Regions from separate parts of the Homo sapiens genome. Here region 2 is linked to region 1. A link means that fine-mapping ties the variant in region 1 to the expression of a gene that starts in the linked region. Tissue or cell type: tibial artery. Region 1 holds a variant in brackets; the other region holds the start of a gene. All regions are shown on one strand. Distances are between the middles of the regions.

The links. PIP is the estimated chance that this variant, and not a neighbour inherited with it, causes the effect.
Region 2: it holds the start of SLCO5A1, and the variant in region 1 is fine-mapped to the expression of SLCO5A1 in tibial artery (GTEx, PIP 0.98).

Annotation. Positions count from the first base shown.
Region 1 is chr8:69,929,486-69,939,832 of GRCh38, forward strand. It overlaps the pseudogene RNA5SP270. Among named protein-coding and RNA genes, the nearest start is that of SLCO5A1, 100 kb to the left of the region's middle. The variant T/TA (reference allele first, on the strand shown) is at 4,247.
Region 2 is chr8:69,829,309-69,839,655 of GRCh38, forward strand. It overlaps SLCO5A1 (solute carrier organic anion transporter family member 5A1), which reads right to left and starts at 5,670. Exons shown (of 10, transcript NM_030958.3): 1 at 5,546-5,670; 2 at 2,459-3,861. The coding sequence starts at 3,365. It overlaps SLCO5A1-AS1 (SLCO5A1 antisense RNA 1), which reads left to right and starts at 4,804. Exons shown (of 4, transcript NR_186568.1): 1 at 4,804-4,885. RefSeq lists silencers at 3,646-3,735, 5,826-5,935 and enhancers at 3,926-3,995, 5,426-5,505.

The sequences.
Region 1 (10,347 bases):
GTTGAAAATTTAAAAACTAAAAAGTTTATTATGAAGTAAAATGTTAGACTGGGCGTGGTGGCTCATGCCTGTAATCCCAGCACTTTGGGAGGCCAAGGTGTGTGGATTGCTTGAACCCAAGAGTTCGAGACCAGCTTGGGCAACATGGTGAAACCCCAACTCTACAAAAAATACAAAAATTAGCCAGGCATGGTGCTGGCTGTAATCCCAGCTACTCAGGAGCCTCCTGAGGCAGGGATCCTCCTGCCTCAGCAGGAGGATCACCTGAACCCAGGAGGCAGAGGTTGCAGTGAGCCAAGATTGAGCCACTGCACTCCAGCCTGGGCAACAGAGCCAGATCCCGTCTCAGAAAAAAAAAAAAAAAAAGTAAAGTTACAGTAAGCTAAGGTTAATTTATTATTGAAGAAAGAAGAGTATTTGCCTATGTCCATACCACCTTGACTGTAGCCAGTCTCTTCTGATCTCAGAAACTAAGCCAGGTCAGGCCTGGTTAGTACTTGGATAGGAGAATCCTAGGACTACTGAGTGCTGGAGTCTTTAAAGGAAAGAAGAGTGCTGCTTTATAAATTAAATTTTATATTAATAATAGTAATAAAAAATTATTATTATTAATAGTAATAATCTCTTGTTATTAATAATAGTAATAATGTATTGGTAGTAATAATAGTAATAATGTGTTGTTATTATTAAATGCTTTATTATAATATATAAAGTCACTCAACTCACCCAGAACAACTTCCAGTCCTGTGAGTTCCATTCACGGTAAGTGCCCCCTATACAGGTGTACCATTTTTTGTCTTTTATACTGTATTTTTACCGCACCTTTTCTAGTTTGGATACACAAATACCATTGCATCACAGTTGCCTACAGTATTCAGTACAGTAACATACTGTACAGGTATGTAACTATATCACGGAGCCCAGGTGTGTAGTAGTCTATACCATCTAGGCTTGTAAGTGTACCCTGTGATGTTCACACAATGACAAAATTGCCTAATAACTCATTTCTTAGAACATGTCCTCATCATTAAGCAACACATGACTGTATGCATACACACACACACACATATGTATGTATGTATGTATGTATGTATGTATGTATGAATGTATAATTTAAGGAGTCAATTAACCATAACAGGCAATTGACAGTAACAGTTAAGGCCATGGGACCTGGGGTCCTCGGTTTGGAATCCCCATTCCATCACTTACTGTGTGACCCTGAGGAATTTACTTAACCTCTCTAAGCCTTAGTTATAAGACCCAAGTTTAAGAAATACTACTCTTGGCCGGGCGCAGTGGCTCACGCCTGTAATCCCAGCACTTTGGGAGGCCGAGGTGGGTGGATCACCTAAGGCTGGGAGTTCGAGACCAGCCTGACCAACATGGAGAAACCCCATCTCTACTAAAAATACAAAATTAGCTGGGCGTGGTGGCTCCTGCCTGTAATCCCAGCTACTCAGGAGGCTGAGGCAGGAGAATTGCTTGAAACTGGGAGGCGGAGGTTGTAGTGAGCTGGGATCACTCCATTGCACTCCAGCCTGGGCAACAAGAGCGAAAAAAAACAAAAAAAAAAGAAAGAAAGAAATACTACCCTTAGGGCTGAGTGCGGTGGCTCACACCTGTAATCCCAGCACTTTGGGAGGCCGAGGCAGGCGGATCACAAGGTCAGGAGATCGAGACCATCCTGGCTAACACAGTGAAACCCAGTCCCTACTAAAAACACACACACAAAAAAAAATTAGCCGGGCGTGGTGGCGGGAGCCTGTAGTCCCAGCTACTCTGGAGGCTGAGGCAGGAGAATGGCATGAACCCCGGGAGGCAGAGCTTGTAGTGAGCCGAGATTGTGCCACTGCACTCCAGCCTGGGTGACACAGCGAGACTCTGTCTCAAAAAAAAAGAAAAAAAAGAAATACTATTCTTCAGTTTATTTACTTTGTTCATCAAATATTTAGTGAGATTCAATTATCTGTCAGTGCCTGGAGAATAAGGTGAACCAGGTCCCACCTCCATAGAAATCTAATGTGCAAACAGGATTTATGCACTCTAGGTACAGTCTAAGCCGGGTCTAGCTCATCGTCAAATAACCTTCAAATATCCAATACATATTTCCAATGAGACATGACTTTTGCGAGTGTTTTACTGGATCATAGTTGTCATGGAAATAGGAGTGAGTTAATATTAGTATTACCTAGCATATGGTAAAACTATGATTATGAAGAAGATGTTATTCATGCAATTGTTTAAATTGTTTAAATTTCTGTGAAATGAGCCTATGTCCTGGATCCCATTTTTTTTTTTTTTTTTTTTTTTTTTTGGAGACACAGTTTCGCTAGAGTGCATTGGCGTGATCTTGGCTCACTGCAACCTCCACCCCCCGGGTTCAAGCAATTCTCCTGCCTCAGCCTCCCGAGTAGCTGGGACTACAGGCACCCATCACAACGCCTGACTAACTTTTTGGATTTTTAGTAGAAACAGGGTTTCACCATATTGGCCAGGCTGGTCTCGAACTCCTGAACTCATGATCTGCCCGCCTCAGCCTCCCAAAGTGCTGGGATAACAGGTGTGAGCCACTGCACCCGGCAGATCCTGAATTTTTTTACATTTTTATTTATTTAATTGTAGGGAAAAACCTTGTTTTTAACAAAAGCATTTCCCCTTGACTGATTAAGTACCCATATAGTCAAAATACATGGGTACTTAATCCTGGGGATTTTGCCAGGCTTTAGCCATAGCGCTGGACCCAAAGTCTCACTATGCATTGTATGTTTACAATGCTACACTCAAAATAAAAAATACAAAAATAAGGAACAGAGCTGAATGTATAGCCACCTCAGGAGATACTTAAGATTGTTTTTATTTATTCCTTTTTAATAAACTTACAATGTGACTTTCTTAAGAGTGGCTTGCTTTACGAAATCAATACTCAGCAAATATTTGAGTATTTGATAAAAAATATACTAAATGCTAAAATGCAGACTTGGAAGTGGGGCGAATTTGAAGATTCCAAACAACTGGTTCCCAGTTAATAGAGGTTTTAGCTGGGCGCAGTGGTTCATGTCTGTAATCCCAACACTTTGGGAGGCCGAGGCAGGTGGTTCACCTGAGGTCAGGAGTTTGAAACCAGCCTGACCAACATGGTGAAACCCTGTCTCTACTAAAAATACAAAATTAGACGGGCGTGGTGGCAGGTGCCTGTAATCGCCCCCCCCAGAAAATGGAAACCCTTCTATCTTTGTGAAAATTATGTAAAAATGACTTCCTCTTGTTAGTGGAGCAGGCTGCCTGCCTCCCTCCTGCTGTGCAGAACTATGTCGGACTGTAGCCATGCAGGAGCCTTTTCTACCTAGTAACCAATAAATAAAAAATTAAAAAAAAAAACAAAACCCTTTGTCATTGGCCAGATCTCTATTTGGAAATAGGCATAAATTCACTAGCCTTACTTTAGCTACTGGAATTGCATCTTAGCAGAGAGAGAAGGAAAAGAACACAGCTTTTTAGAGCACATTATGCATCTAACTAGTGTGAACTTCACAGCAGACTAGTCATAGCAGATAAGTGAAGACGAAGAAAAAGTAGTACTTAATGACACAGCACATTTACCTCTTTAATTCACAGAAACGTCTGGTGTTGTCCTAGTTCATGTAGCCCAAAGTGGGCCAGGGGATAGATTTTAAAAAGCAACAACACTTTGGCTTGATATTTTGTTTAAAAACAATGTTAGCCAAGCGTGGTGGCTCACTCCTGTAATCACAGCACTTTGGGAGGCTGAGGTGGGAGGATCACTTGAGACCAGGAGTCAGGAGTTAGACACCAGCCTGGGCAATACAGTGAGACCCTGTCTCTACAAACAAACAAAAAAATTAATTTAAAAATTAGCAGGGTGTGGTGGCTCATTCCTGTGGTCCCAGCTACTTGGGAGGCTGAGGTGGGAGGACTGCTGGAGCCCAGGAGTTTGAGATTGCACTGAGCTATGATCTCACCACTGTACTGCAGCCTGGGTGATGAAGACAGACCTATCTGTAAAAAAGATAAAATAAAATACTTTGAAAAATAAAAAACAATGATGTGAGCTCATCCAGAGAAAGTTTGTAGAGAAAGCCCTTCAGGTGTCCTGTGTTGGCCAGCTCAGAATGAGGGAACTAGCACCAATACTTTGAATTTTCCTTCCTAGGGCTCCTTTTTAAGGCTTTCACAGCAGCTTTACTCATTTCATATTCATCTTCCCAAGAACCCTCTATTGGACTAG[T/TA]AGGATTTATACAAGAAACTTGGCCATAGAGGGATTTAGTGACTTGTCCAAGGTCAAAGTGAGTTTTCAACTAGTCCAGGAATCAAGTCCAGGTTTCCAGCCCTACTGGCAGATCCCCCTTCACATACTGGAAAACATTCTTTCCTTCACCCATCCCTTGCCCTGTTCTATTCTCAGACTGTGTTGATGCCCACGCTGAAAATAGAATCTCCCTACCACTGCCAGAGCTCTTCTCGTCACTGCCGGGCAGTGGGAGAGTTATAAGAAGGTGGCAATGGCCCATTCGGGCTTATCTCCAGAACTGCCCCCAATTATGACTGCCAGATTTAGCAAAAACAATAATATGAGATAACCAGTTAAATTTGAAATTCAGATAAGCAAAGAAAATTTGTTTAGTATAAGTATGGCACATGCAATATTTGGGACATGGGACACACTTACACAAAACATTTGTAACTTATCTAAAATTCAGATTTAATGGGATGGGTTATGCCTGTAATCCCAGCACTTTGGGAGTCCGAGGCGGGTGGATCACCTGAGGTCAGGAGTTCGAGACCAGCCTGGCCAACATGGTGAAACCGTGTCTCTACTTAAAATACAAAAATTAGCTGGGCGTGGTAGTGCACACCTGTAATCCCAGCTACTGGGGAGGCTGAGGCAGGAGAATAGCTTGAACCAGGGTGACGGAGGTTGCAGTGAGCCGAGACAGTGCCACTGCTCTCCAGCCTGGGAGACACAGCAAGACTCCATCTCAAAAAAAAAAAAAAATGTAACGGGATGTCCTGTGTTGTGTCTGGCAATCCTGCCCCCATCCTTCCCCACATCTACCCTGGCACCCACACACAGGATTATCTCAAAGGTAACACCTTCACCCAGGACACAAGGAGCAACACACAGATGTCTTTCCTTCCAAAACCTAGGAAAGTTCTTTTCAACTCAATTATGCAAAATGATTCTGCAATGAATACCTCAGATAATTAGGCTCCTAGGTATTTTATAGACTTTTTTTTTAACTGCAATGATATTTATGGATTTTTTTCCAAATACAAAAGTAATATATATGTATTTCCAAAGATGGCTGCAACTATGTCTCCCATCCCACTTTTCCACAAAGTGACCAAGAGGTGGTATCTGTGTCCCTTTCCTCATAAATATGGACAGGTTTAAGACTTGTAGAAGTTCAAACTGAATATGGATGTCTTGAATATGGATAGGTTTGCGACTTGAAGTATGGACTGGCTTGTGACTTGCTGAAATTCAACTTCTATTGAGCTGTCATGAGAGTCCAACTACACCGAGGCCAGCATGCTGGTGGTAGGAAGCCAGGCTACATGGAAAAGCCACAGGTAGGGGCTTCAGAAGGCAGACCAGTCTTTTTTTTTTTTTTTTTGAGATGAAGTCTTGCTCTGTTCCCCAGGCTGGAGTGCCGTGGCACAATCTCAACTCACTGCAACCTCCACCTCTCAGGCTCAAGCAGTTCTTATGCGTCAGCCTTCTGAGTAGCTGGGACTACAGGCATCTGCCACCATGCCTGCCTGATTTTGGATTTTAGTAGAGAAGGGGTTTCACCATGTTGCCCAGGGTGGTCTTGAACTCCTAAGCTCAGGCGATTCGTCCACCTCGGCCTCCCAAAGAACTGGGATTACAGGCGATGTCAGAGATCCTATATATCTTTTTGTTGTGTTTTGTTTTTTTGAGACAGAGTTTCACTCTTGTTGTCCTCCCTGGCTGGAGTGCAAGGGTGCGATCTCAGCTCACTACAACTTCTGCCTCCCGGGTTCAAGCAATTCTCCTGCCTCACCCTCCCAAGTAGCTGGGATTACAGGCATGCACCACCACGCCCAGCTAATTTTGTAATTTTTTTTTTTTTTTTTGACATGGAGTCTTGCTCTGTCACCCAGGCTGAAGTACAGTAGCACAATCTCAGATCACTGCAACCTCTGCCTCCCGGATTCAAGCCATTCTCCTGCCTCAGCCTCCTGAGTAGTTAGGATTACAGGCGCCCGCCACCACGCCCATCTAATTTTTGTATTTTTAGTAGAAACAGGGTTTCACCATGTTGGCCAGGCTGGTCTCGAACTCCTGACTTCATGATCTGCCCGCCTCGACCTCCCAAAGTGCTGGGATTACAGGCATGAGCCACTGCATCCAGGCTAATTTTGTATCTTTTTTAGTAGAGACCAGGTTTCACCATATTGATCAGGCTGCTCTCGAACTCCCGACCTCCAGTGATCCACCCGCCTCAGCTTCCCAAAGTGCTGGGATTACATGCGTGAGCTGCTGCGCCTGGCATCAGACCAGCCTTTAATGTCCTCCTAGCCCAGGTGTCAGGCAGGTGAGCAAATTAGCCTTCTGATTATTCCAGCCTCCAGCTGTTTAGTCACTTCCCAGCTAAGATCTGAGACAGGATGAAGCAGAAACAAGCCATCCCCACTCTGACCTTCCAAATTCTTGATTCCAGAACTTGTTGACATAATAAAATAATTGTTCTTTTATGTCACTAAGTTTACAATGGTTTATAATGCAGCAATAATAACTAGAACATAAAACCTGCTTGTTGCAGAAACTTCAAAAAAGAACATAATCGCCTGTAATTCTATATGCAAAGGCAATTGCTTTTAACAGTTTGAGCTATGTGCTTCCAATATTTTTCTATGGCCATATGGACACATTTTTCTACTTAAGCAAGCACAGTATCATAGAACAGGTACCATTCTATGCTCTGATTTTTTACCTTGACAACATTAATTGAAAAATCAGCCAGGTGCCATGGTTCACGCCCGTAATCCCAGCACTTTGGGAGGCTAAGGCAGACGAATCAATAGAGCCCAGGAGTTCCAGACCAGCCTGGGCAACATGGTGAAACCCCATCTCTACCAAAAATAAGAAAATTAGGTGGGCTAGTGGCACATGCCTGTAGTTCCAGTTACTCGGGAGGCCGAAGCAGGAGGATCCCTTGAGCCTGGGAGATCCAGGCTGCAGTGAGCCATGATTGTGCCACTGCACTCCAGACTGGGAGACAGAGTGTGACCCTTTCTCAAAAAAAAAGAAAAGAAAAATCTTTCCATTTTATTGAACAATAGTGTCTTTGACAATAATAACTGAAATAGCTATTACTAAGAATTTACCTGTTTCTTTCTTTCTTTTTTTTTTTTTTTTTTGAGACAGGGTCTCACTCTGTCATCCAGGATGGAGTGCAGTGGCAAGAGCTCAGTTCACTGCAGCCTCTACCTCCTGGTTTCAAGCAACCCTTGTGCCTCAGCCTCATGAGTAGCTGAGATTACAGACGCACATCACCACACCCAACTGATTTTTGTGTTTTTAGTAGAGAAGGGGATTTACCATGTTTGCTCAGGCCGGTTTCGAACTCCTGAGTTCAAGTGATCCACCTGCCTCAGCCTCCCAAAGTGCTAGGATTACAGGCATGAGCCACAGCACCCGGCCTGTATTTAACTTGTTTCTAATTGTTTATTATTATAAAGACAACTGCAATAATAATCCTTACATATGCATCTTTGCATTCAGATGAAAATATAAAGAAAATATTTTTTCCTTAAGATAAACTCCTAGAAATGGAATTCCTGATCAAAAGTCTTGCATAATTTGTAAGGCTTTTGATACATATAAACTTTCCTCCAAAAACAGCTCTGCTTTTTATTAACAGGTTAAATTATTTTATGCTGCCAACAATAGTGCATGATTGCTTATGTTTTCACATTCTCACTAGCAAGAGATATAATGATCATTTTAAATTTTGGCCAGGCACGGTGGCTCATGCCTGTAATCCCAGCACTTTGAGAGGCCCAGGAGGGCGGATCATTTTAGGTCAGGAATTTGAAACCAGCCTGGCCAACACTGTGAAACCCCATCTCTACTAAATATACAAAATAATTAGCTGGGTGTGGGTGGTGCATGCCTGTAATCCCAGCTACTTGGGAGGCTGAGGCAGGAGAACTGCTTGAACCCAGGAGGTGGAGGTTGCAGTGAGCCGAGATAGCGCCACTGCACTCCAGCCTCAGCAACAGAGCAAGACTCTGTCTCAAAAAAAATAAATAAATAAAATAAAAAATAAATTTCACCAATTTCATGAACAAAAATGACAATTCAGCTGGACACAGTGGCTCACACCTATAATCCCAACACTTTGAGAGGCCAAGGCAGCAGGATGGCTTGGGCCCAGGAGTTTACAACCAGCCTGGGCAAGATGGTGAGACCCTCACTCCAGCCTGGGTGACAGCCTGACTCCATCTCAAAAAAAAAAAGATAGACCCAGTCTCCAAAAAAAAAAAGAAAGACAATTCACTGTTACCAGAGTAAACACTGCTTACCTGTTTATTAGCCATTTTTGTTCCTTTTTTAGCATGAATTGCCTCATCTTGTCCTTTGCCCATTTCTGTTGGAAGAGTTATCATCTCTTAGTGATTTTTAAAAGCAATTTCATTATTAATTATACCAATCCTTTCATATATGTAGAAAAAATGTTTGAGTTGGTCATCTGTCTTTTATTGAAGATGCATTTCAAATATCAAATATATTTGAAAGATAAAATAGCATCTGTGAAATTGAATATTATTTTATGTGCGCTTGGCTATGCCCTAAAATGTCAGTTTATTATCCCTAAAGACGTATTTATTGATGTTTACCAAGAATAGAAGTTGGCTGGGCACAATGGCTCACGCCTGCAATCCCAGCGCTTTGGGAGGCCGAGGCGGGTGGATCACCTGAGGTCAGGAGTTCAAGACCAGTCTTGCCAACATGGTGAAACCCCCTCTATACTAAAAATACAAAAAATTAGCTGGGCGTGGTGGCAGCCACCTGTAATCCCACCTACTCGTGAGACTGAGGCAGGAGAATCACTTGAACTCGAGTGGCAGAGGCTGCAGTGAGCTAAGACCATGCCACTGTACTCCAGCCCGGCCAACACAGCAAGACCTCCTCTCAAAAAAAAAAAAAAAGAGGATAGGAAAAGAGGCCAGGTGCAGTGGCTCACGCCTGTAATCCCAGCACTTTGGGAGGCTGAGACAGGAGGATTGCTTGGGTCTAGGAGTTCAAGACCAGCCTAGGCAACATAGTGAGACCCTGTCTCTATATTTAAAATATATATATAGAAGAAGAAATCAAACACAAAAGAAGTGGAGACAAGCAAAAAAAAGTACACACATTGAAACCAACTCTAGGGGCCGGGCATTGTGGCTCACACTTGTAATCCCAGGACTTTGGGTAGCTGAGGTGGGCAGATCACAAGGTCAGGAGTTCGAGACCAGCCTGACCAACATGGTGAAACCCCATCTCTACTAAAAATACAAAAATTAGCCGGTGTGGTGGCACACACCTGCAGTCCCAGCTACTCAGGAGGCTGAGGCAGGAGAATGGCATGAACCCGGGAGGCGGAGCCTACAATGAGCCGAGATCGCACCACTGCACTCCAGCCTGGGCGACAGAGCGAGACTTTGTCTCAAAAAAAAAAAAAAAAAGAAAAGAAAAGAAACCAAGTGTAGCACTCTAGCTGAAACAAAAAAGGAAGTGGTGAAGGGTGCAGACTTTAATAATAATAATAACAATTTTATTATATTATATATTGCAAAATATTATAATTGTTATATTTATGTTATAAATAGAATGTATTATAATATTTACATTTATATTATAGATATGATATATAGTCATTGTATTTAAAATAGTATATGTATTAAATATATTATTATATTTAATATAATAATTATAATAACTAACCTTTATTCAGCATTTTACTATGCACTTTATATGCATTTTGTCATATAGTTCTCCCAGTAACCCTTTAGAAGCTACTATTAATATTTCCAACTTATAATTGAGGAAGTGAGGCCTAACAGAGGTCCAATGACTAGTAAATGCTATCGTTGGAGGCCTGGTCTCATACCTCAGCCTGAATTCTCAAACACTAAACATTACCTCCTCCCCTGGACAACTTGCCCAGCTTCTGCAAATCTCACTTTCCGTACTTGGTCTTTTGAATATGAAATGACATCATGCACATGTGGTGTTTACACAGGCCTAGCATACAATAAATACACCCTCAACAAAGGCATGGCATCACCCTGATCATCTTCATCATCACCGCC
Region 2 (10,347 bases), 100 kb before region 1:
AGGAAATGATCAGATACATCTAGAATGTGGAACATTAGCCTTGCCCCTTCAAAAAGTCTATGCCATGGAAAAAGAAAAAAGTTGAGGCACAGTTCTGGATTATAGAAGGCTAAAGTGGCTAACAGCCAAATGCAATGCATGAATGAATCTTGATTAGTTCCTCATTTAAAAAATTATTATTAGCCTGGGAAACATGATGAAACTCTATCTCCACAAAAAATTAGCTGGGCACGGTGGCACAGGTCTCTAGTCCCAGCTACTTGAGAGGCTGAGGTGGGAGGATTGCTTGAATCTGGGAGGCAGAAGTTGCAGTGAGCTGAGATTGTGCCACTGCACTCCAGCCTGGGTGAAAGAAAGACCCTGTCTCAATCAATCAATCAGTATAAAAGACTTTCAGAGGACAATTGAGGAAATTTGAATATGGCCTGAATATTTAATGATATTAGGGAATGATTATGAACTTCCTTAGGATGTTGATGTTCCTTCAGTTATGTAAAAGAATACCCTCATTTTTAGAAGATGCTCTGGCAGTGTCTGCAATTACTTTTAGAAGGCTTAGCCTCCCATCTCCCAAAATATATTTCTATACATATATACACTCACACACAGGTTGATAAAGCAAGCATGACAAAATAAACAATCATTGGGTCTGTGTCGTGGGTATACTGGTGCTTATTATACTATTGTTTCAACTTTTCTGTATGTTTAAAATTTTGTCTTAATAAATGTTAGAAAACAGAGAGGCAAGATGGTAAGCAAGCTATTCTTCTCTACCCAGAAAGGAAATTTCTTTCTCTTGCATGTAGTGATAAAAATAAGTTATAAAACTCTTTTTCTGACCCATTGAACCAGTTAGTGGGGATTACTGAGGACTCAAACACCCCTCTATAACAGCTTTTGGGGACAGTAAACATACTGAGGACAAAGCATAGCCCTCTTATATTGGATATCATTTACACCGTCCTTTGAAAATCTTACTATTCCCAAATCAAGAATCCTATCAGCACATTGCTAATAAATTGCTAAATATAGCTAGTATTTGCTTATTTATCATTTTAATTTTTTTAAGAGATGGGGTCTCACTATGTTTCCCAGGCTGGTCTCAAGTCCCTGGGTTCAAGCAATCCTCCTGCCTCAGCCTCCCGAGTAGCTGGGACTACAGGCACACACCACCACACCCAGCTTCCATTTCAGTTTTTTCAGTAAAGTAAAATCCTTTAGCTTGTTTAGGTTGCACTCCAGTACAGAAATAGAAAAACAAAAATCTCATCTGGTATGACAGCCATTGATCCTTCTTATGGGTTCAAATCCATCCCTTAGAAGTTCAGTTTTTAAGAACCAGCTACTACAGGGAGGTGCTAACAACCTCAAATTTCTAGGATGTAAATTTTCATACCCTCTGCAACTGCTGCCTGGCCTCAGATGAGCCCCCTGTACTTAACTCAAGCACCCCTGTCCACTGATGCTGACTTATGCAAGTCAACACACCAAATCCCACAGCCACGGCTTTTCAGAAAAATAGGAATGGATTCTTCTCCCAAGTTCATACAATTGAGGGTTTTTGACAGCAATAAAAATAGCTTTGGATAAACCTTATAACCTGTGGTGTTGCTTCTTCATAAAGGTAAGCCAGTCATTTGACATTATTCAAATTTTTGTTGTTGTTTTTAGATAGTGGTGCAGGTGACGTATAAGAAAAACAGGTATGAATCCCAGCACTTTGGGAGACCAAGGAGGGTGGATCACCTGAGGTCAAGAGTTCAAGACCAGCCTGACAAACATGGTGAAACCCCATCTCTACAAAAATTAGCCAGGCATGATGGGTACCTGTGATCCCAGCTACTCGGGGGCTGAGGCAGAAGAATCACTTGAACCCAGGAGGCGGAGGTTGCAGTGAGCTGAGATCATGCCATTGCACTCCAGCCTGGGTGACAGAGCAAGACTCCATCTTAAAAAGAAAAAAAAAAAAAAGAAAAGAAACACAGGTATGAAGGCAATAAAGCATGATGTATGTAGTCTGGCCACGCCACCATCCCTGCTGCTCTGGACAGAAATCAGAAGCAGCAGCAGATAGAAGCAGAAAATCATCAAAACTTTACACATGAGGTACTGCTATTCCTTCCTCAACAAGTGTATTAGAATATAAACTTGACAAATTGGAGCTTTTCCATAGGTAGGTAGCAACAGAGAGAAGCATCACCCCACAGTTTAAAGTTTATGTTACTTGGGAAAAGACAAACATGAAGTATGAGTCTGAAAATTAGTTTCAAGAACTCTCAACTAATTGATTCTCTCCCAAACTGAAAACACACTACAGCAAGGCTAAAACGTAAAATAAAGTGAACTTTAATCTATAATATACATGAAAATGTGAAAGAACATGTTTCCTTTTGATTTTTGTAAGGAAAGTAAGTTTCAGTGTGAGTGAAACATATCTGAGAGAACAGGAAAGTCTTACCTAGGTACAAGGAGGAGTTTTCTTTCTTGACATTGTCATCTAAGTAGGTTGGTCCCAGGGTATAAATAGGTGTGGAGCCCATTCCAATGAGAATCTGCGCGCAAATGAATAAAGCCACGTAGACCCAGTGATTATTTCCTCCCGAGTCCTTCGGACAGGCCGGAGGCTCCAAAGTGGCGGTGGAGTTGCCACCCTGACACAGGCCGTCGTTGGGGGCCGAGGCGTTCAACTCTTGGATCTGGTAGGGGGGCGAGATGAAGTGAGGTAAGGCGAAGAGGGCTGCCCCGAAGGCGATGAGGAGTCCACCCACGGCCAGCCACAGGGGCCGCCGACCCCGGCCGCCGAAGTAGCTGACGAACACCACCACCACCAGGTTCCCGATGTCAAAGCAGCTGACCAGCAGCCCCGACTCGGAACTCTTCAGACTGTAGCGCCTTTCAATGGTGGTAATTACGCTGCTCAGGTACCCAGAGACCATTAACGCCTGGATGAAGGTCAGAAAGCACATGCACACCAGGAAGCAACGGGAATCCGTGAGGACCACGTAGAGGCACCTTCTCTCCTGGAGCATGGCCAAGGCGGAGGACACCGAGAAGGTTTTGCTGAGGTCCACCCTGTGGTTACAGTCCCCGAGCCCCGCCGAAGTGGACGGGGCAGAGGGACTGGGGGCCAACGGGTTCGGGCCTTGCTTCAACTCCTGGTGGCCCGAAGAATCCACACAGCCAAAGGCCGGGTTGGCGTCTCCACTAGTGGGACTGAGGCTTGGCCGGCAGGAGGCGCTGCTGAGGACCGGTAAACTCTTAGACCTGAGGGTCTCCGGCTCGCACCTCTCTTGGACAGCTTCTGCAGTGGCCGGCGCCTCCAGCTGCTCTCCCGCCCCGGGCTGCAGTCCAGTGCCTTCGTCCATGGCGCTTAGAATTCAGATTTGATAGCTGATGGCACCCAAGCACTCCGGCACGTTTCATCCACCGGCACGAGGGGCCGAAGCCGGGCCCAGTCAGTCTTGCCCACCTGGGACTGGGGCTGGGGGCGCAGGGCCGCGCAGCAGGGCATCCTCACCAGCTGCGAGGCGCCCAGTGCATCCTGATCACAGACACGGCTTCAAGGCTCCGCAGCCGCGTGCCACAGGGGGCAGGGGTCCGCGCGGTACTGCGATGAGCCCTACTCGGCGTCCCTCTCCGGGCGGTAGCTTGAGGCAGGCGCCTCGCGCGTCCCGGGCTCATCCCCTCCGCCGCCGCCGCCGCCGCCGCCGCTGGGCCCGCGGCCAGGAGCGAGTGCACCCTGCGCCGGGGGTGGGGGGGCACTTAGCGCTGCTGTCCGTACAGCATCCCACCTCGCTGCGCCAGGGGTACCGGGTGTTCGCCGCCTGGGCTCGCGGCACCCTCGGGAGTGAAGCTGCCGACCTGCAAAGCAGAAAGAGGGCGGTCAGCGAAGAGCGGCTGCGGCTTGGGGCTAGCGTCCCAGCGCCCCGGGGACCAGGGTTAGGTGACCCCGAACCGTCCCTAGAGGGACGGAGGAGCTAGTCAGGAGCGGAGCCCCGGAGGACTAGGCAGCAGCCGGCTGCAGTCTCCAGTCCCGGAACAATAAGCAGCAGGCGGTCGGCGGAGACTCTCCCTCATTGTCTGCCGCGGACCTGCCCCCGTCCCGCCCCTTCTGCCTTAAACATTGCGTTTGCTTTTATATGTTAATAATTATCAACCTGGCAGCTCTGACTCAGAGGCAGTGTCTTTTAATCGAGTGAACTAACTGCAGCCTTTCCGTACTCCTACTCCATTACTCAAAATAGAAAATGCCCAAAAGAACAAAGGAAACTTTTTCACAGACACACAATGTATTCCCTGTCCCAATTTTTCTAAAAGGAAAAAAGAAGGTGGGGGTAAACTACGTGTGTAGAAATGTGTGTGCACACTGGTGTGCGTTGGCACGTGTGCGCGACTAGATTTGAATCTGTCTGCTCCACCAGAGACACACATTCAAAGCCGAAGGCAGCAGCAAAAAGGTCAACATGCTTGCCTCTTTATTCCCAACACCAAAAATAACCCCCTGACCGAAAGAACTCTTCAATTACAAATACCAGGGGCATTCGAGGCTGTGGCCCGCACTAAGTCCCAGAGCGCGGTATCAAACGAAACCGAAAATCCGTCTGCTTTGCCGAGAGCTAGGGAAGCCACAACCAAACAAAGAGATCCCGGCACGCTGTCAGAGAGCGCGCGAGGAGCCCACGGAGCCGGCTGGGCGCACGCGGGCCGGCGGGGAGGTGTGCTATTGACTGAGCGCACCCCGCTAGCGTGGGCCTGGGGAGCGTGTGCGCGTGCGCGGCCACACACACACACACACACACACACACACACACACACACACACCGGCGTACTGGAACCTCTCTCGCGATCCCGCACCCAGCTTGAATTCAGCAAGAATCGAAAACAGGTGTGCCCCCGTGGTAAGACCCCGCCCCTAATCTTGGGGACCCCCACTCCACTCCTCCAGCCTGGGGCAAGGACGGGGGGCGGAATATGCACCAGGTGGGAGACAGCCGAGCTTCACTACACTGGGTTTCATTTTGCAGCGCGCCTTTGTGATGCTGCTGAGAAAAGAAAGGAGGAAGGGCAAGGGAGAAAGGCAGAGAGGCTGGGCGGCCAAGGGTGGCCGCTCCGGCATCTCCCTCGGCTGTGCTGGGCCAAACCCGCTCCCAGATTCCCGGCCTGCCAGCCACTCACAATCCCGGGCTTCCCCGCCGCTGCCTTACCCAGGCGCCTTCCCGGGGAACCCCACCAGCCGCTGCGTGAGGAGCCGGGGAATCCCAGCAAACTCTCGCCGCTCGCGGGGGGCGTCCGAACCCCCTGCTTAGGCGAGCGCCCTCACAGCATCGCAGACTCGGATGGACACGCGGATCCCGGCAGGGAGCTCTTGGAGCAGGCGTGGAATCCCAGGGACACCCCCTGCGCGCACATCACATACACGCACATCCTACACACACACACACACACACACACACACACACACACACACACACAGAGCCCGTGGGAAGACAAGACCGCCGGCGACAGCCCGCCGCGCTGCCCGGGCGCTCAAGCCGCCGCTACTCACTAGCGAGTCTGTCAGTCTGTCTGCCTGGCTGAGTAGAGCGGCGGGAGGGGGGCACTGAGCTACGGGAATAGTTGGGAGCCGCGTGAGGAGGCAGCCTCCGTCCAGCCGAAGAGAAATCAGTGAATGAGACTGTGACTCAGGCTGAACTCTTCCCCCCACCCCTCGCCTGTCACCCAAGCCTCTCCTCCGCTCCAAACAGACACACGCGCACAGAGACGCGCCCGGAGAGGAGCAGCCGAGGGCGCAGGCGCGAGGGCAGCCACCCAGCCCAGCCCTCCCACAGCCAGCCACCCCGCTGCCCTTCACCTGCGTGGCTGCGGGGGCCCAAGAGCGCTGAAGCCCCGAGGGAGCCGGTCTCTAGAAAAGTCAGCGGCTGAAGCTGACAGCCCACTCTGAATAAATAAATCATTTCTGATCGTTTATTCCGTGCCTTGGGCACACACCATGTCTCATTCACCATAGTAGATTCTGGGACCAAAGATAAACAAGACAAGATACTTGGTCGGAGGAAACCTCTGGCTTGTGGGGGAAATACTCATGTAAATGGCTTAAAACAACGTGGTACATCTATGCAGCCTGCTACTGGAGTAGCCAATATCCATTAGCCTTCATTTCCACGCAGCAGGAAGAACAGAGGCACGGGGGCATGGTGCTGCCAGTCAATAGGTAGATAAGCTTCCTAGAAGATTGCAGGGATGGGGCAGAGGACCAGACTGCAAGAGTGGCTGAGTAGAAAGGGGCACTACGGGTTTCCTAAGTTGTGTACTGTCAATAATGTGGGGGCAATGACGTTCTGACTTCCTCACCAGAGAGCTGGCTCTGGCAGTGACAGGTAGACAGATGTGAGGCCACACTGCGGGCACAGAAGTGAGTTGGGAGGCAGTCTGAAAGCAAAATGTGATGAGGCATTGGCAGGGGGCATGGAGAGGAGGGAACTGGGCAGCTGATGCAATCTGCAAGAGAAGAAAACCAGCCGAGGTAGGATGACTCCCAAGTTTCTAGCACCAAGTTGGGTGACTACGTGCCTGACAGCCAATAAAAGCACAGGTGGAGAAACATGCTTTAGGAGAAAGATTGTTCTCATCTACATGTGTTGAGTTTGAAATGTTTGGGGGACATCCCAGTGTACGTGTCCCATAAGCCACTGGACACACAGGAGGTTTGGACTAGGAATATTGATCAGTAGTCATCAGCCCAAAGGTGGCATGAGAAAGGATGGAATGAATAGGGAAGATCATCCAAATTGTGAAGAATCTAGGAGGACAGCGTACAGCCAAAGGAAGGAGACTGGAAGCAAGGGTCAGAGAGGTGTGGGACGCATCAGAAAAGCCAAAAGAGCAGACGACTGTAAGAAGGGAAGGGTCAGATGTGTACAGGCTGCAGGGAAGACAAACAGGATGATAACTGAAAAAAAAAAAAAAAAAGAGTATCTGAGGGCACTTGTGACCATTGACAGAGCAGGATAGTGCTCTAATGGAGGAAAGGAGGTTGCTCACAAGTACCAGTGACCATGCTGGCCATTGCTGCCAGGTCGAAGCCCCTCCACTGGCCCTTGGCCTTGCCCAATGAAAGCATTGTCTCCATTTTACAGATGTGATAAGTGTAGAGAGGTTAAGTAACTTTATATAGGCACACAGCTGCTCTGTAGACAATATGAACCAATGTGCTCCAAAAGACTATGTTCTTACTTAACCTCTTAACCCTGACTCTCTACCCTCTCTCCTGCCATTGAATAACATCCTGACTCGTCAATGCACCTTGATTCTTTTGATTATCTCCCTTTAGTCCAACAACCGTCGTATCTACAGCGATCCTTAGAGAACAATTAAGGCCAGTTGACAGTAAAGAACAATCAGTGTGTATTTGAAGTCCATGCTGAGAGAGCATCAATCTTCTGGCAGCTGCAAGACTGACCTATCAACCGAGGCATTTCTTCATTCCCTGCCATTGTCTCCTCCTCTTGAGATCGCCATCAGGCACAGTCACTTTTCTACAAACAGGCAATAGGACTCCCGCTGCCACCCTGCCCAGATTTTAGTCCTCTACTGCTGATAAAGTGAGCAAAGATACGTGGCACTTCCTGAACCCAAATACTCTTCTGAGCTGATTCTAAATCCACACAGAATCAACCTACCTCCTATTACCTCCTTCCAAGCTCTGTGTCCCATTCTCTCATTTCAGTCTCAGCTCCAGACATCAGTGAATTCAATGTGATACATCAGGGGACATCACAGGACTTCCCTACTTGAAAATCAAGCAATCGTGTCCCTGAAACACTCTGTCTTTATTCATGCTCAGTTACCGTAAAGTAGATGCAACTCTAAGAACCTATGGATTTTTTTATTGCCACTAATAGATCATGATTTACAGCAAAATTTTAAAAGGTCCAATTTTACTCACATAAGAAGAAGAAAACATTCAGCAAGAAGCATTTCTTTTGCTTTATCTTTCCCAGTTAAATATGACTTTAAAAAAGACAAAATTTTAAAAGGTCCAATTTTACTCACAAAAGAAGAAGAAAACATTCAGCAAGAAGCATTTCTTTTGCTTTATCTTTCCCAGTTAAATATGACTTTAAAAAAGACAAAATTTTAAAAGGTCCAATTTTACTCACATAGGAAACAAGAAGAAAACATTCAGCAAGAAGCATTTCTTTTGCTTTATCTTTCCCAGTTAAATATGACTTTGAAAAAGAAGAGCACACCTCATTAGCCGTAATTGTCTGATTAATACAAAGAAATGGACTCATATCACGGGGTTCTACTACCCCTATGGTAGTGTTTACTATCCTTATTTCACTCAATAATTACAGTTACTTTAACCAGAATGCCTGCCTTGTTTGGCATTTTGGGAGAGGAAGCATATGACTGTAAACCCTCTTCAAACTTTCAGACTTACGTTTGCTTCTTCTAAGTCCATCGACTTTATACATAAATGACTTCTTTTTAAAAATAAATAAATAAATAAATAAATAAATGATTTCTTTCCTGATCTTCATATAACAAGTATGTAGCCTTTGCAATTTCCAGGGCAGTCTACAGGTTTAAAATCTGGCCGTCCTGGAGAATGGGCAGAAGAAAGCTGAAGGGAGCCTTTTCCCACAGCCCTTCCCTTCCTTCTTAAAGAAGGTTCACTTCAGAGGTCTCCCAGATACAACAAGAACTGAGTTTTTGGTTCAGAATATTTTGTGGGTGCAAAACATAATACATAGTTGCCAGTAACATAATTGAATTAGGTGTTGGTTGTTTAAGAGGAGACACATTGTATCTTTAAGGTAGCCCCTTAATAGAACTTGGCATGTATATCCTTCCTTAGAAGTGAATTTCAGGTTGGGTAAAACCTGAGAAGGAACAGATCTGGCCCTGGGGTACAATGAATGCAGGCAATCACTCCAGCCCTGGTGGCTTGAGGGCCCTGCAAGTGCTAAAGGAGTATAGTGACCAACTGTGTCCAAAGAGACTTAGCACTGCAAGTCCCACACCCCCAAGAAACCACAGTTCCATGAACACCTGGAGGCTTGGCTCCCTATAAAGAAACTGCCACCTCCCTTAATATAATTAAGCCAGATTAGCTGGGTACTGTGGCTCACACCTGTAACCCCAGCACTTTAAGAGGCTGAGATGGGAGGATCCCTTGAGAACACATTTCCACTAAAAAAAAATTTTTTTTAAATAGCCAGGCATGGTGGCATATGCCTGTGGTCTCAGCAACTCAGGAGGCTGAGGCAAAAGGATCACTTAAGCCCAGGAGGTAGAGGCTGCAGTAGGCTGTGATTGCGCGACTGCACTCCAGCCTGGGCAACAGAGCAAGACCCTGTCTCAAAAAATAAACAAACAAACAAAAACCAACAACAACAAAAAATAATTAAGCCAGGCCAGGTGCAGTGGCTCATGCCTGTAATCCCAACACTTTGGGAGGCCGAGGTGGGTGGATCACCTGCGGTCGGGAGTTCAAGGCCAGCCTGACCAACATGGAAAAACCCCATCTCTACTAAAAATACAAAATTAGCTGGGTGTGGTGGCACATGCCTGTAACCCCAGCTACTTGGGAGGCTGAGGCAAGAGAATCACTTGAACTGGGGAGGCGGAGGTTGCAGTGAGCCGAGATCGCACCATTGCACTCCAGCCTGGGTAACAAGAGTGAAACTCCATCTCAACAATAATAATAATAATAATAAAGCCAGATACTCCAAGGCTAGTAATGGAGGGAAACTTCCCTGTGAAGAGGAGACAGTTGTCTTAAAAAAAAAATCATGTTCCCTTGAAAGATGTTTCATAATTACCACCACTGCCACCTTGGCCTGGAAAAGAAAGTGGTCGGATGGGAAGGGGAAGGAAGCAGGTTAGAAGAGGCAGTCCTCCATGGGCTGTGAGCATCTCTACATGTTTCTCTTGGGTGCACCTAGAATGCAAAGCCCTAACCACTTCTGAATGCAGAGAAACTCAAACTGCATTGTCCTCTGCTCTCATACCGCAACAATCAACACAAAAGACTTCTGTGACCAGATGTTGGTGGGCAGTCTACACCAACAAGCAATCAGTTCTGCAGAAGACACCAGCTGGGCATCCTCCAATTCAACTCCGTTCTGACACTATCTACCTCAAGATAGCATCACATCCCAGAGGTTGAGGGCTCAGTCCCACAAAACTGCCTCCTCTCTCCCCTAGACCCAGAGTCAAGTCTGGGCCTCCAGAACATCTGACCAACTAGCTTCAATTTGGGATTCCCACAACCCCTCTTTGGGTTTGATTAATTTGCTGGACAGGCTCACAGAACTCAGGGAAACGCTTACATATACCAGT